Homo sapiens: one gene and its partner. The protein of the gene in region 1 interacts with the protein of each later gene in a pairwise test. Each region holds a gene or a part of one and is shown on either strand. Other genes may lie near its edges. The genes, in order: TMEM106A and ENTPD3.

The links.
Region 2: the proteins of TMEM106A (region 1) and ENTPD3 interact in binary tests that used the Homo sapiens proteins (3 or more experiments, as listed by UniProt).

The regions. Positions count from the first base shown.
Region 1 is NC_000017.11:43,214,857-43,220,804, forward strand, and holds the end of TMEM106A (transmembrane protein 106A), read left to right. Parts: intron 1-931; coding exon 932-1,085; intron 1,086-1,592; coding exon 1,593-1,733; intron 1,734-1,840; coding exon 1,841-1,884; intron 1,885-2,402; coding exon 2,403-2,456; intron 2,457-2,824; coding exon 2,825-2,945; 3' UTR 2,946-5,185; downstream 5,186-5,948. UniProt on the Homo sapiens protein: Activates macrophages and polarizes them into M1-like macrophages through the activation of the MAPK and NF-kappaB signaling pathway.
Region 2 is NC_000003.12:40,389,927-40,397,207, forward strand, and holds part of ENTPD3 (ectonucleoside triphosphate diphosphohydrolase 3), read left to right. Parts: intron 1-1,024; exon of another isoform or gene 1,025-2,096; coding exon 2,097-2,224; exon of another isoform or gene 2,225-2,643; intron 2,644-7,281. UniProt on the Homo sapiens protein: Has a threefold preference for the hydrolysis of ATP over ADP.

The DNA of each region.
Region 1 (5,948 bases):
GGCTGAGGCAGGAGAATTGTTTGAACCCAGGAGGTGGAGGCTTCAGTGAGCCAAGATCATGCCACTGCACTCCAGCCTGAGCAACAGAGCGAGGCCTCATCTGAAAAAAAAAAAAAAACAAAAAAAAACCCTGTAATCCCAGCACTTTGGGAGGCCAAGGCGGGCAGATCACGAGGTCAGGAGTTTGAGACCAGCCTGACCAACATGGCAAAACCGCCTCTACTAAAAATACAAAAATTAGCCGGGCATAGTGGCAGGCACCTGTAATCCCAGCTACTCAGGAGGCTGAGGCAGGAGAATGGCGTGAACCCGGGAGGTGGAGGTTGCAGTGAGCCGAGATCGTGCCACTGCACTCCAGCTTGGGCGACACAGCAAGACTCCATCTCAAAAAAAAGAAAAAAAAAAGAAATTAGCAGTGCACATCATAAGATACTAACAAAGTACTATCTCTTTAATGCATATCTGAATTTTGAATTGGATGGATGGTGTCCTGTTCTGAATGTTAAAATTCAGAACTTCCAAATATGGACTTATTTCTTCTAGTGATAATAACTAGCATTCATTGTGCTTTTGCCATGTGCAGGGACCTGTGATTAGTATTTTTTCATATATTAGCCGATAACAAATTCTGTGAGGTCAGTACAATTATCTGCCTTTTACCAACAAGGAAACTGAGACTTAAGGAGGCTAAGTGGGCTGCTCCATGTTATTGGGTCAATGGGAACAGAGATCTGGGAGTGGAAACCAGGCTGCCTGCCTGCCAATCCTGTGCTCCTACTCATTCCGGGCCACATCTGGGGAGCTAAATGTTGTTGGGGTAGTGTGCAGGGGAAAGCTTTGTATATGGAGAGGAGTGTCTGAACCCCCTCTCCGAGTTTCCTTGGTGTTCAGACTTTTCCATTCCTCCATCCTGGGTCCTGCTTTCCCACAGGAAGCTCTTTGTGTTCCTGGCCGTGCTCATCTGCCTGGTGACCTCCTCCTTCATCGTCTTTTTCCTGTTTCCCCGGTCCGTCATTGTGCAGCCTGCAGGCCTCAACTCCTCCACAGTGGCCTTTGATGAGGCTGATATCTACCTCAACATAACGGTGGGTGGGTGCCCTTGGCTCCAAACCCCCCTTCCTAGCAATACTTCGCTGTAACCTTTGTCCAGTGTTATGACCCTGGGCATGGGAAGCCAGAGATCTTATGGCACCCAGAGGGTGTTGGGAGCCTGAAGAGAAGTAGGAGCAACCATGAGCTCCATGACAGATGGTAAGGATTGGGACTCTACACAGTAAGGGGTCAGAATCCGGGCCAGATAAGTAAACCACAGGGGTGGAGTGGGGTGACAGTGCCTGAGACTCTCTGGATGGACAGGACTGAATGGAAAGAAGCTGTACAGGATGGACCTGGATCCTGAGGCAGCTTAACTTCGTAAAGTTGACCCCTCACCATTCAATGCCCCTCCAAGGGGCTCCCAGTTTTCATCCTCTGCACCTGAAGCTTGTCATGGTAGATGGGGCTCAGGCCAGACAGCCAGGCTTTTGCAACTGTTTGGCTTTTCCTAAGGATGGGCCATCTTCACTCCTCCCTTCCCTTGTCTTCATCCCCAGAATATCTTAAACATCTCCAATGGCAACTACTACCCCATTATGGTGACACAGCTGACCCTCGAGGTTCTGCACCTGTCCCTCGTGGTGGGGCAGGTTTCCAACAACCTTCTCCTACACATTGGCCCTTTGGCCAGTGAACAGGTGACTCCCCTCTCCCTGGCCAGCCCTGCCCACTGGTGTGTGGATGTGTGGTAGTGGGAAAGGGGCAGCTGGAGTTGGGGCTAACCCTGTGCCCATTTGGTTGACAGATGTTTTACGCAGTAGCTACCAAGATACGGGATGAAAACACATAGTGAGTACCCCTTGATCTCTTCTCCCCTAGCCACTTGCCTGGCTTAGGGACCCAATTAATACCCACCAGCTTTCCTGATTGCTTAGCAAATTCTTCAGCCAGCATCTGGCCTGCCCTCCCATGGCCGAGAATGTAATAAGCAAGGGTTCAGGGTCCCCAGCCTCTGCTTGTTTGGACCTTGATTAGAATGAAAAACAGGCTGGAATTTGGTTAATCTTTACAATATGTGACCTTGGGCTCTTCAGCCTGCATTGCTGAGGAAGAAGAATGTTTTGTCTGTCTCCTGAATGGGGGTCCAGCATGTGCCTGGGCCAAGTGAGTGGAGGTCAGAGTGATAGTGCAGCCATGCTGCTACACTCACCTGAAGGGTGGGAAGGGGTGGGAGTGACATTTTGGGGGCACCTGATGGAAGGAAAGAGTTCTGTGGGGTAAGGAAACTGGGACCTGCAGGCATCTTCTGAGCTGACAGGCTGCTCCATGTGACACGTGGTCCCACGTTCTCTTTTCTTCTCTCTCAGCAAAATCTGTACCTGGCTGGAAATCAAAGTCCACCATGTGCTTTTGCACATCCAGTAAGTAGAGCTTGGAGCTCTGGTATCCCTGCTCTCACTTCTGACTTCATTCTCACTCAGCTACACCTCATGGGCAGAGAGTCTTCCAAGCTGACCCCATGAATCTTTGTTGGCTCTTGGGAATAGCAAGTCTAGCCCCTTTTCTGAGTCTCACCTTGCCTATAAGTTATTAGGGGCAACAGGCATAGGGCTGTCTGGAAGCTGCTGGAAAACAGGTGGGGCAGCTGTCCCAGGTACCTTGGCAGAGTGGGGAGCCAGAGGGAAGGGCAAATGAGGGAGCTCCCCGCTCCCCACCCCCAGACAGTATAATGGGGCCAGAGCTTTCCTTTTCCTCCCAGCCATGGCAACAAGGCCTGCTTCCTCTCCAGGGGCACCCTGACCTGTTCATACCTGAGCCATTCAGAGCAGCTGGTCTTTCAGAGCTATGAATATGTGGACTGCCGAGGAAACGCATCTGTGCCCCACCAGCTGACCCCTCACCCACCATGACCTGTCTGCTGTCCCTGTACTCCAGGCACCTGCAACCCTGGTCTATATCTCCCACAACTCCCTGGTGACTAAGGAAGGACTACAGAGGCTTTGCCAAAGGAGAAGCCCTGCCTCATCACACCCTTACCTCCCACCCCCTCAGCACAGGAAGCTTGCTTTGAAGTTAACTTCATACACACACACTCATATCCTCCAGTTTCCCCCAGATTCTTTCAGGGGCTGCCATCAGATTCTGCCCTTGGTTAGTTTTTTGTTTTTTTTTTGGTAGAGACAGAGTCTCACTGTTGGTCCAGGTTGGTTTTGAACTCCTGGGCTCAAGCGATCCTCCCTTCTTGGCCTCCCAAAGCACTTGGATTACAGATGTGAGCCTGTGCCTGGCTGGTCTTTCTTGAGGAAAATCTGACCTGGCATTTTCTTGAGGCACCTTAGATTCCCTGGAGTGGCACCTGGCCTTTCTGTACTGAGCACCTGGTCAGTCTGAAGGGGGCATTTCACCCCAGCTCCATCAGGGCTGGCTGTCCCGTCTGAATGTGGAGAGAGCTGTAGTTTTATCTGGCTTTTAAAACATGGACCTGCCGGCTGGGCGCAGTGGCTTACACCTGTAATCCCAGTACTTTGGGAGGCCGAAGTGGGTGGATCACTTGAGGGCAGGAGTTCGTGACCAGCCTGGTCAACATGGTGAAACCTTGTCTCTACTAAAAATACAAAAATTAGCTGGGTGTGGTGGCATGCGCCTGTAATCCCAGCTACTCGGGAGGCTGAGGCAGCAGAATCACTTGAAACCGGAAGGCAGAGGTTGCAGTGAGCCAAGATCGTGCAACTGCACTCCAGCCTGGGCAAAAGAGCAAAACTTTGTCTCAAAAAAAGACTCTTTTCAAGTTTTCTACCCTCTGATAAGAAAATTTGGGGATATCCAGTGCCATCTCCAAGGACTTTCAGGGGATCATAGATGCTTTTCTGTGCCTATCTGCTTTGACCATGTGAAAAAGTGATAGTCTGCTTCTCTCTGGTAACTTGTCTGCCACCCATCTGATAGTAAGATTAGCCAAGGCCCTTTAGCCCTCTGTCCTTTCTGGTTATTGACTGTCCCTGGTTCCTAGGAAGACAGAGTTGTTCTCCAGCTAAAGCGTCTCCTCTCTATAAAGTAGTTTTACTATTCTTTTCATAGCAGGAGCCAAAATAGTAGAGGAGGGGAGAGAGGCACCTGGCACTCTGCGGGCCTGCACAGGAAAAACAGAGCCAAAGACAGAATCATTGTATAAGATATTTATTAAAGGAGAGCCTCTAAGTCCACATCCTGAGCCCATGTGAGTGGACACAGGTAGGTAAAACGGTGGGTCCAGCTGCTGTCATCTGAAAGCCTTCAGGAGATGAAGCTATCAGTATCCAGCTGAAGGCTGCTGGGTTCTGTTCCACCACCACCTTAGCACCAGGGCCCTCTCTGGTCCCAGAGGCCTCATCTCTCCTTGGGCTTTGACAATGTGGAGCAGCACATCAGCAGGGACTGGTCTAGACCCTCCCTTTCCTGTCACTTAGCTGGAGCTAAGCTCCAGATAACCCCTAGGTTCCCACTGGCTCCTAGTAGAAATAGTTTCTGTACTTTAGCAGAACAGGAAGGATATTTGTTCATTAAAGGTGGCTTGGTCTTACAGCTGGGTGCAGTGGTATATACCTGTAGTCCCAGCTACTCAGGAAGCTGAGGTGAGAGGATCTCTAGAGCCCAGGAATTCAAGTTTAACATGAGCAGCAACATTAGCAAGACCCCGTTTAAAAAAAAAAAAAGAGCTGGGCGTAATGGCGCACACCTGTAATCCCACCTACTCAGGAGGCTGAGGCAGGAGAATCACTTGAACCTGGGAGGCAGAGGTTGCAGTGAGCCAAGATCGCACCACTGCACTCCAGCCTGGGCAACAAGGGCGAGACTCTGTCTCAAAAAAAAAAAAAAAAAAAGATGGCTGTCTCTTTATCATTCAGACAGAACGATGAACACAGGTGAGCAGGGAAAGCTAATTTTGAAGTAGGATGCATGGAGAGGGAGAAGTGGTGACAGAACTTGGTAACTAGCTGGCTGGGGGAACGAGGGGAAGGAAGGAGACTGCTGTCTCCAAGCTGAGGTCAGGGTGGTGTTGGCAAGAGCGCAAAAGTCCAGGGAAGCCAGGCTGGAGCTGCTGTGTATAGACTGCCAAATGTGAAGTATTTATATTGTATTCAATAAACTATACTTAAGAGTGTTCAAAAAAGTCTCCTGGGAGTGGGAAGGGAGCTAGTGGATACTCCCTATTTCACAAACTTTTCTTTTTTTTTTTTTTTGAGACAGTTTCGCTCTGTTACCCAGGCTAGAGTGCAATGGCATGATCTTGGCACAGTGCAACCTCTGCCTCCTGTGTTCAAGTGATTCTCGTGCCTCAGACTCCCTGAGTAGTTGGGGTTACAGACATGCACCACCACACCAAATTAATTTTTGTATTTTTAGTAGAGACAGTGTTTTATCATGTTAGCCAGGCTGGTCTCAAACTCCTGGCCTCAAGCGATCTGCCCGCCTCGGCCTCCCAGAGTGCTGGGATTACAGGCATGAGCCACTGCACCTGGCAGAAACTGTTTCCTTAATGTTCTAACGGGCAGCAAGGTTTCTTCCCCAGGCCTCTGAGCCACTGATGACATATCCTGCCCTTCTGTTTTCCGTGAGATTGCTCACAGGACCTCACTCTCCCTCTTGCTCCCATTGTGTATCTCTAAAGTCTCTTCCAATTTTACTATTCCTGTTCTGTGCCACCACCATCCCGTTATCTTCCCCAGCTGCTCTCATCAGGAAATTTCGTGGGTTGCACTGAAACGGCCCCTTCAGACCAAAGGCAATGCTATGTAGGCTAAAATGAAATACGCAGCTGATGCCTCGGACGGGGCTTGTGATTGAGGTGACTGAGGCAGCCTTTCTCAGCATGGAGGAAGAAAGGCTTTCCCAGGGCTTGCACCTTCCTGAAGTCTAACACCCAGGGCCCCCAG
Region 2 (7,281 bases), on another chromosome or scaffold:
GCTGTTCAATTGATCTTCCTATAATGATGAAAATGTTATATGGCTGCACTGTCCAATATAGTAGCCACTAGCCCACATGTGGTTATTGAACACTGGAAATGTGGCTAGTAAGATTGAGAGACTGCATTTTTTTATTTTAATTAATTTACATTTAGATAGCCAATTGATTAGATATATATTGGAATTCGATGAATCTAGTGATCTTTCTATTAGTGTTCATCATATTTCAACCATTTGGTTGTCATTTATGTTGATGTCCCAATAGTTTTACCAAGACTATTATTATTATTTTTTTAGAGACAAGGTCTCACTCTGTCACCAGGCTGGAGTATAGCGGCACAGCTCACTGCAGCCTTGAGCTCCTGGGATCAAAGGATCCTCCAACTTCAACCTCCTGAGTAGCTTGGGCTACAGGTGTGCACCACATGTACAGTTGATTTTTTTCATTTTTTGTAGAGACGGGGTCTCACTATGTGGCTCAGGCTGGCATCTAACGCCTGGCCTCAAGCATCTTCCCATCTCAGCCTCCCAAAGCTGGGATTACAGGCATAAGCCACTATACCCAGCCCAAGATTATTATTTAGTCAGTATTTTCATTGAATGTCTTTTTATCTTTTTAAAAAATTAGGTATAACTTCTATTCAGTGAAATGGATAGATCTTAAGTCGTGCCCCTAAGTTGGGTGTTCTTGCCTTCTAAAAGTATGTTTTTAGAATAGTAAGGGCAATTTATAAGTTTATAATGTTTTTTTAAAAGGAAATTATACCTAAGACACTGATTTGCTTTCATTTTCAAGTTTTCTCCAAAGGACTTTGAAAGGTTTGATGAGTTTTGACAAATGCACACATCCATATACTCCACACTCTGTATAGCGCATTGCCATTACCCCAAGAAAGTGCCCACATATTCCTTCTCAGTGAATCCCTGCCCCAACTTCTGCCCCCTGGCAATCACTATTCTGATTCCTGTTACCTTCCTACTTTTGAACTTCAAATAAATGAAATCATTTCAGTATAGTATAGTACTAATTTTTTTATTTTTATTTTATTTTATTGAGACAAGGTCTTATTCTGTCACCCAGGCTGGTGTGTAGTAGTTTGATCTCAACTCATTGCAACCTCCACCTCCTGGCTTCAAGCAATTCTCCCACCTCAGTCTCCCGAGTAGCTGGGACTACAGGCGCATATGATCACACCTGGCTAATTTTTGTATTTCTTGGTAGAGACATGGTTTCACCATATTGGCCAGGCTGGTCTTGAACTCCTGACCTCAAGTGATCCACCCACTTCGGCCTCCCAAAGTGCTGGGATTACAGGGGTCAGCCATCTGCCCAGCCTAATTTCTTTTTCTTTAACTGAGATTATTTTTAAATGAAATATTCTATGAGATTATTTTTAAGTGAAATATTCTATCACCTGGTTTAATTTTTTAAAAATAGATTTTTTGAATCTCCATTAAAACTAATGTTAGCTGGGCGTGGTGGCTCACACCTGTAATCCCAGCACTTTGGGAGACCGAGACAGGCAGATCACTTGAGCCCAGGAGTTCGAGACCAGCCTGGCCAACATGGTGAAACCCTGTCTCTATTAAAAATACAAAAATTGGCTGCCGTGGTAGCAGGCACCTGTAATCTCAGCTATTCAGGAGGCAGAGGCAGAAGAATCGCTTGAACCTGGGAGTTGGAAGCTGCAGTGAGCCAAGATCACGGCACAGCACTCTAACCTGGGCGATAGAGTGAGACTCCATCTCAAAAAAAAAAAAAAAGAAAAGAAAAAGAAAAAAGTAAAACAAATGTTATTGTAATTCATCTCAGGGATAACCAAAATATCAGAAAACTAGACCATGCATACCCTCCCTGCAACACTGTTTTAGTACACAATTTGTGAGGAAGGGCAAATAGGTATTGTTTGTGCTTCCCCAAAACTGGGGAGAAGGGGAGCTTATTTGCTACTCCATCTTAGAAGTGTGGGTCTCGCTAACACCAGAGAAGGTGGTTTATGCACCTGATTATGGGGCCAGTCCATCAATTCTACAAAGAATACCAGTGCCTGGTTTTTACCTCCCCCTCAAGTGTCTTCTGGGTCTTCTCATTTTAGGCCTCAAGGCCCTCTACCGAACTCCAACCATCATTGCCTTGGTGGTCTTGCTTGTGAGTATTGTGGTACTTGTGAGTATCACTGTCATCCAGATCCACAAGCAAGAGGTCCTCCCTCCAGGACTGAAGGTAAGTGTGAAGGGACTGGCAACAAAGGGAAGAAATGAGCATAAAGGGGAAGAAATCAATTATTCCAAAACCATGAGTTAGAAGAGCAGAAAATCCTTTCCCCCCATCTCTGGCTGAAGCCAGGAGAAGTTAGTGTAAGACGCAAGGGAGAAGGTCTGGACATGCTGGGTTTGTGATATTTGAGGCTACAAATTGAGGGTAGTGACTGACACCTTCTCCAAGGACTGTGTAGTCTTGCTTTGACTTCTGACTTCAAAGCTAAAATTTGTAACCAAGAGTTGCAGATAGCTATCAAAGATTTACCAGTTCAGCCAGGTGCGGTGGCTCACGCCTGTAAGGCACTTTGGGAGGCTGAGGCAGGTGGATTGCTTGAGTCCACGAGTTCGAGACTAGCTTGGGCAACATGGTGAAACCCATCTCTATCAAAAAAAAAAAAAAAAAATTTACCGGTTAGTGCACTTTCCATTTTGACCAGTTTATCTGTTCTCCCAACCACACAACCCTGATAATGAGTAAAGACCGAGGCTGAGCACAGTGGCTCATGTCTGTAATTCCAGCACTTCGAGAGGCCGAGGAAGAAGGATTGCTTGAGCCCAGGAGTTCAAGACCAACCTGGGCAATATAGAGAGACTCCATCTCTACCAAAAAGAAATTTTTCCAAAAAAAGGAAAAAAGAAGTCAAGACCAGGAGACCCAGGCACCTCTTCTAGCCTAGGCTGAGTGAACAAAAAATCAAGAACTTGAGAAGGTCTCCTTGAGCTCTATTTGTGCTGCTACTCTTGAGTCTAGAACATGTGCTGTGTTCCTTCCAACACTTCCCTCAACAACACCCCCCCGGCAAAAAAAAAAAAAAAATTACTCAGGACCTTGTGCTTAGTCCCAGAGGCCCCTCTTAGTTCTCAACAAGTCCATCCCCAAATGATCTTTAGGCTCAGAATCATAATATATCCCCAGGCTTGGCTCTGAGGGTGCCCTTGGAGACAGGAGGTGATTCCATGAGAGGCTGACAAGGGAAAGATGAAGCAAGTTGATGAGTCCTTCAATCATTTTGGGTAGGGGTCAGCAAACATTTCTCATAAAGGGTCAAATAGTATATATTTTAGGCTTTGAGGTCCATTTATAGTCTCTGTTTTATAACTCTTCTTTGTTTTTTGACTCATTAAGAATGTACAAACCCTTCTTAGCTGTGCCATAGGGACCAGGTAATTCAGCCATGTTCTTTGAATCTCATTTAACATTTACACTTGACCTCACAAGTCTTTTCCATATCTTCCTGCTGTTAGTGACTATTCAAAGGTAATATTTGAAATACATAGACATTTTTAAAAGAAAAGAAACTAATATTGTTTTGGACTCTAAGGATGGGTTTGAGCTAACATTCTAAGGCAGCTTTTCTAAAAGATTAGAGTAAAATCTCCATTAGATAATATAATAGCATTTGGTTCCTTGATAGGATATTTTATTTAAGAATCTCAGCCCTCATGAATAATGTGAATTAAAAATTAAAAAAAAACCTTATGCAATCACCCAATAATGAGAAGAAAGCAAATTACCCAGTTGTCCAAAGATATTAGCTGAGGCCTAAAAGAAGGTGTTTTCCCAAGCTCCAGGCACTGCCTTCTACAAACTACTGTATATAAAATTGGGACTTTGGGAGGCCGAGGCGGGCGGATCACGAGGTCAGGAGATTGAGACCGTCCTGGCTAACGTGGTGAAACCCCATCTCTACTAAAAATACAAAAAATTAGCTGGGCGTGGTGGTGGGCGCCTGTAGTCCCAGCTAGCTACTCAGGAGGCTGAGGCAGGAGAATGGCGTGAACCCGGGAGGTGGAGGTTGCAGTGAGCTGAGATAGTGCCAACTGCATTCCAGCCTGGGCAACAGAGCGAGACTCTGTCTCAAAAAAAAAAAAAAAAAAAAAAAAAAGGAACTGCAACTAAGAGTAATATATTTTTTATTTTTTATTTTATTGTTATTATTTTGTGAGACGGAGTCGTGCTCCGTCACCTAGGCTGGAATGCAGTGGCATGATCTTGGCTCGCCCCAACCTCTGCCTCCACAGTTCAAGTGATTCTACTGCCTCAGCCTCCCAAGTAGCTAGGATCACAGGTGCCCACCACCATGCCCAGCTAATTTTTTCTTGCTGTATTTTTAGTACAGATAGGGTTTCACCGTGTTGACCAGGCTAGTCTTGAACTCCTGACCTCAGGTGATCCACCCACCTCAGCCTCCCAGAGTGGTGGGATTATAAGCATGAGCCACCGTGCCCAGCCGCAACTAAGAGTAATATCTCTTTACACTTTGTATAGTGCTATTCAGTTAAGTCAGCGCTTTTCCCTCATTACATCACTTAGTTCTTATGCCAACCATAGAAGGTGGACAAAGCGAGCACCATGACTGCCATTTTGAAAGTGAGAAAATACAGGTTTGGTCAGTGAATGACAGGTCCAGAACTGAAACCTGGTCCCTTCTGTTCCCAAGGCCAGGGCTCTCTTCACTGCCTCCCACTTCTCCCTGACCCTGAGTTCTGAATGGAGATCCCAAATGGAGGGAAGGGATTGGCCTCAGATAAGAGAACACTTCCTGCTTTGCACAGGATGGAAAGGTAGGGAGGATGCATGCAGATGTGGGAAGGTTTGTTGAATTGAAGGAGAGGAGTTAAGCCTAGTACCACCCTTAGACCCTGATAGCTGGGCTGCCTGCCCTGGGCCCCACATTTCAGAAGGACCAGCTCTAGTTGCACTTCAGGCTTATCTCTCTCTATGACCCAAACGAATGTGTTTACCCAGAGCCCATGTTTCCCCTTCTAGAACACACTGTGGTGCCCAAGACTTCAGAATCTAGGGTCTTCGTGGACCTCCAGAAGGTGGACATCACCAATGGTCTGAGGGGTGGCCAAGAGGCAGCTGCTTACAGGGAGTGTAAACAGAGCATAGCTGTGTGGTCTGAACTGTCCACACACAGGTGCATGGGCTCTTTATTCTGTGAGAACAGGTTTGGGAAAGGGACAGGGCAGAAGCCTCTATTCATAAAATTTTGTCTCTAATCCTACAAATGTTAGAAATGGGCTGGTTAAGGCAGTTGCCAGCTGATGGCTTCTACTTGTTCTGGACAGTAACAGGCAAGTCCTCTGTTCAAAATGGAGAGACATGGAGGAATCAGATGGAAGACTAGTAAAATGAGTAGATAAAAATAGATCCCTGGGCAGTCTAGAGGGCACTGTTGAAGGAGAAAACCACACATGTTGAATGCTACTGTCTTAGGTTGGGCTCTCCAAGTCAAAGACATACGTGCAAGTAGATCATCTGGGGATGATCCCAGGAAACACTGGTGAGGGACTAGGGAACTGAGATGGGTCAGGCAGCCAAGAGAGGGCCTGCTATGCAGCAGGTCGGCACTGTGGGCAACTGGGACTCAGTCCTGCTTGAGACCCTGTGAGCTGGTACAGAGAACTCAAAGTTGTCCCATATCAAGGGGCATACAGGCATGTGCCTCCCAGATATCCCAGTCAAGGGCATATTTATTCACCAGCTTCCATCAGTCATTAGCTGAGAGGCTGCTCCCTGGATGTTAACTCTCTAGTCCTTCTGGCATATTTTGTGATCAGGTAGACTCGGGCCACTAGTTAAGCCTTCAGGCAGGTGGAAGATGGATAGTTCTACATCACAGTAGTAAGGCCTGAGGGGATGTGGGCAGAGAATTGTCAGTGACTACTCCATGTAAATAATATTGTTATTATCCCTGTATTGCAGATGAGAAAACAGGAAAAGAAAGGGCAAATAGCTTCCCATAGTTACACAGATTGAAAATAGCAGAACTGGTGTAAAGGAAAGAAAAGAGAACAGACAACAGTGGCCTTAAACAAGGGTTTGGAGGAACCAGGAGACACACCCTCCACCAATCAGCAGGCAGTTCAAAGAGGGGATTTTAAATCTCTTCTGAATCTTGGTAACAGACCCTAGCCACCATTGCAAGGGACAGGAAATTGTAAAACACAGGAAGATGAGCTCGGAAGGTCCATTCTGCTTAATTGGGTGGATTAAATGTGAGAAAAGACAGATGTTCTGGGCCAGTTGAACCAGAAACGGAATGACAGCTTTGGAAGAGAGTGTTCCACATGCAGTTTTTCTCAGGATATGGAGAGATCTCTCTTTTTTTGTTTTGAAGAGGATTGCAGGTGATGAAGTTGAGCAAATATGAGGGATTTTAAATTATTTGTTATGTTTATTTTTTTATACCATGAGCCCTGTTTTGCTTTCGTGTGCAGCTGACAGTTGGTTCTAAAGGGCCAGCTCTACAACAGCCTGTCTGGAGGGCTCTGAAATGTTACAGAGGACTCTCATGCAAGGTCGTATCTGGCTATTAAATCTAACCTTGGCTTGCCTAACCCTGGTTTATGTGAGGTTATGGTCAGAACTATTAAAATGCAGTCAAGGGGCGAAAATGTCTGAGTCTCTTGTGTTACTGGTCTGACTTGCTCCACAAGCTTGAAGAGTAAACATGATGCCATCACTTGTAATTTTCACTCGGCCCCCAGTCCCCCGCTTTATCATCATGAAGTCCAATACCTTCCTCTTGAGGCTTCACCCTCCCTACCCCTAATCATAACCATCCAAGAACTTTAGAGCTTCTCAGTCCAATGATCAATACTATTGTACTGCCTCTTGCAGCCATGTGATGTCACTGTTGAAGATGGGTTCTGCACAGTCTAAAGGTTTTAAGGATGGGCTTTTCCACTGTGACCTGCTCAGCCCACATTAGTTCCCCATACTGGGTCCAAGATCATAAGCCATTTTAGTCTACACTCCCATGCTCAGCCATTACTCTCCAAAGCAAAACCACTGGCCCAGTCTGTGTTGAAATCATTCCCTTTTAACCCTCATTGAGCCTTGCTCATCAGCCTGGATTTCTGGTGCCTTGTAGCCCACCCTGGTCTACTTCTTGGAGAGTAAGAGTTGGATAATTAGTTTCTTTTTTTTTTTTTTTTTTTTCAGAAAGCCTCGGTCTCCTTATGCAAATGGGTCCTCTCCTCCAGCCAGATCTGCACACCCCTTAACTA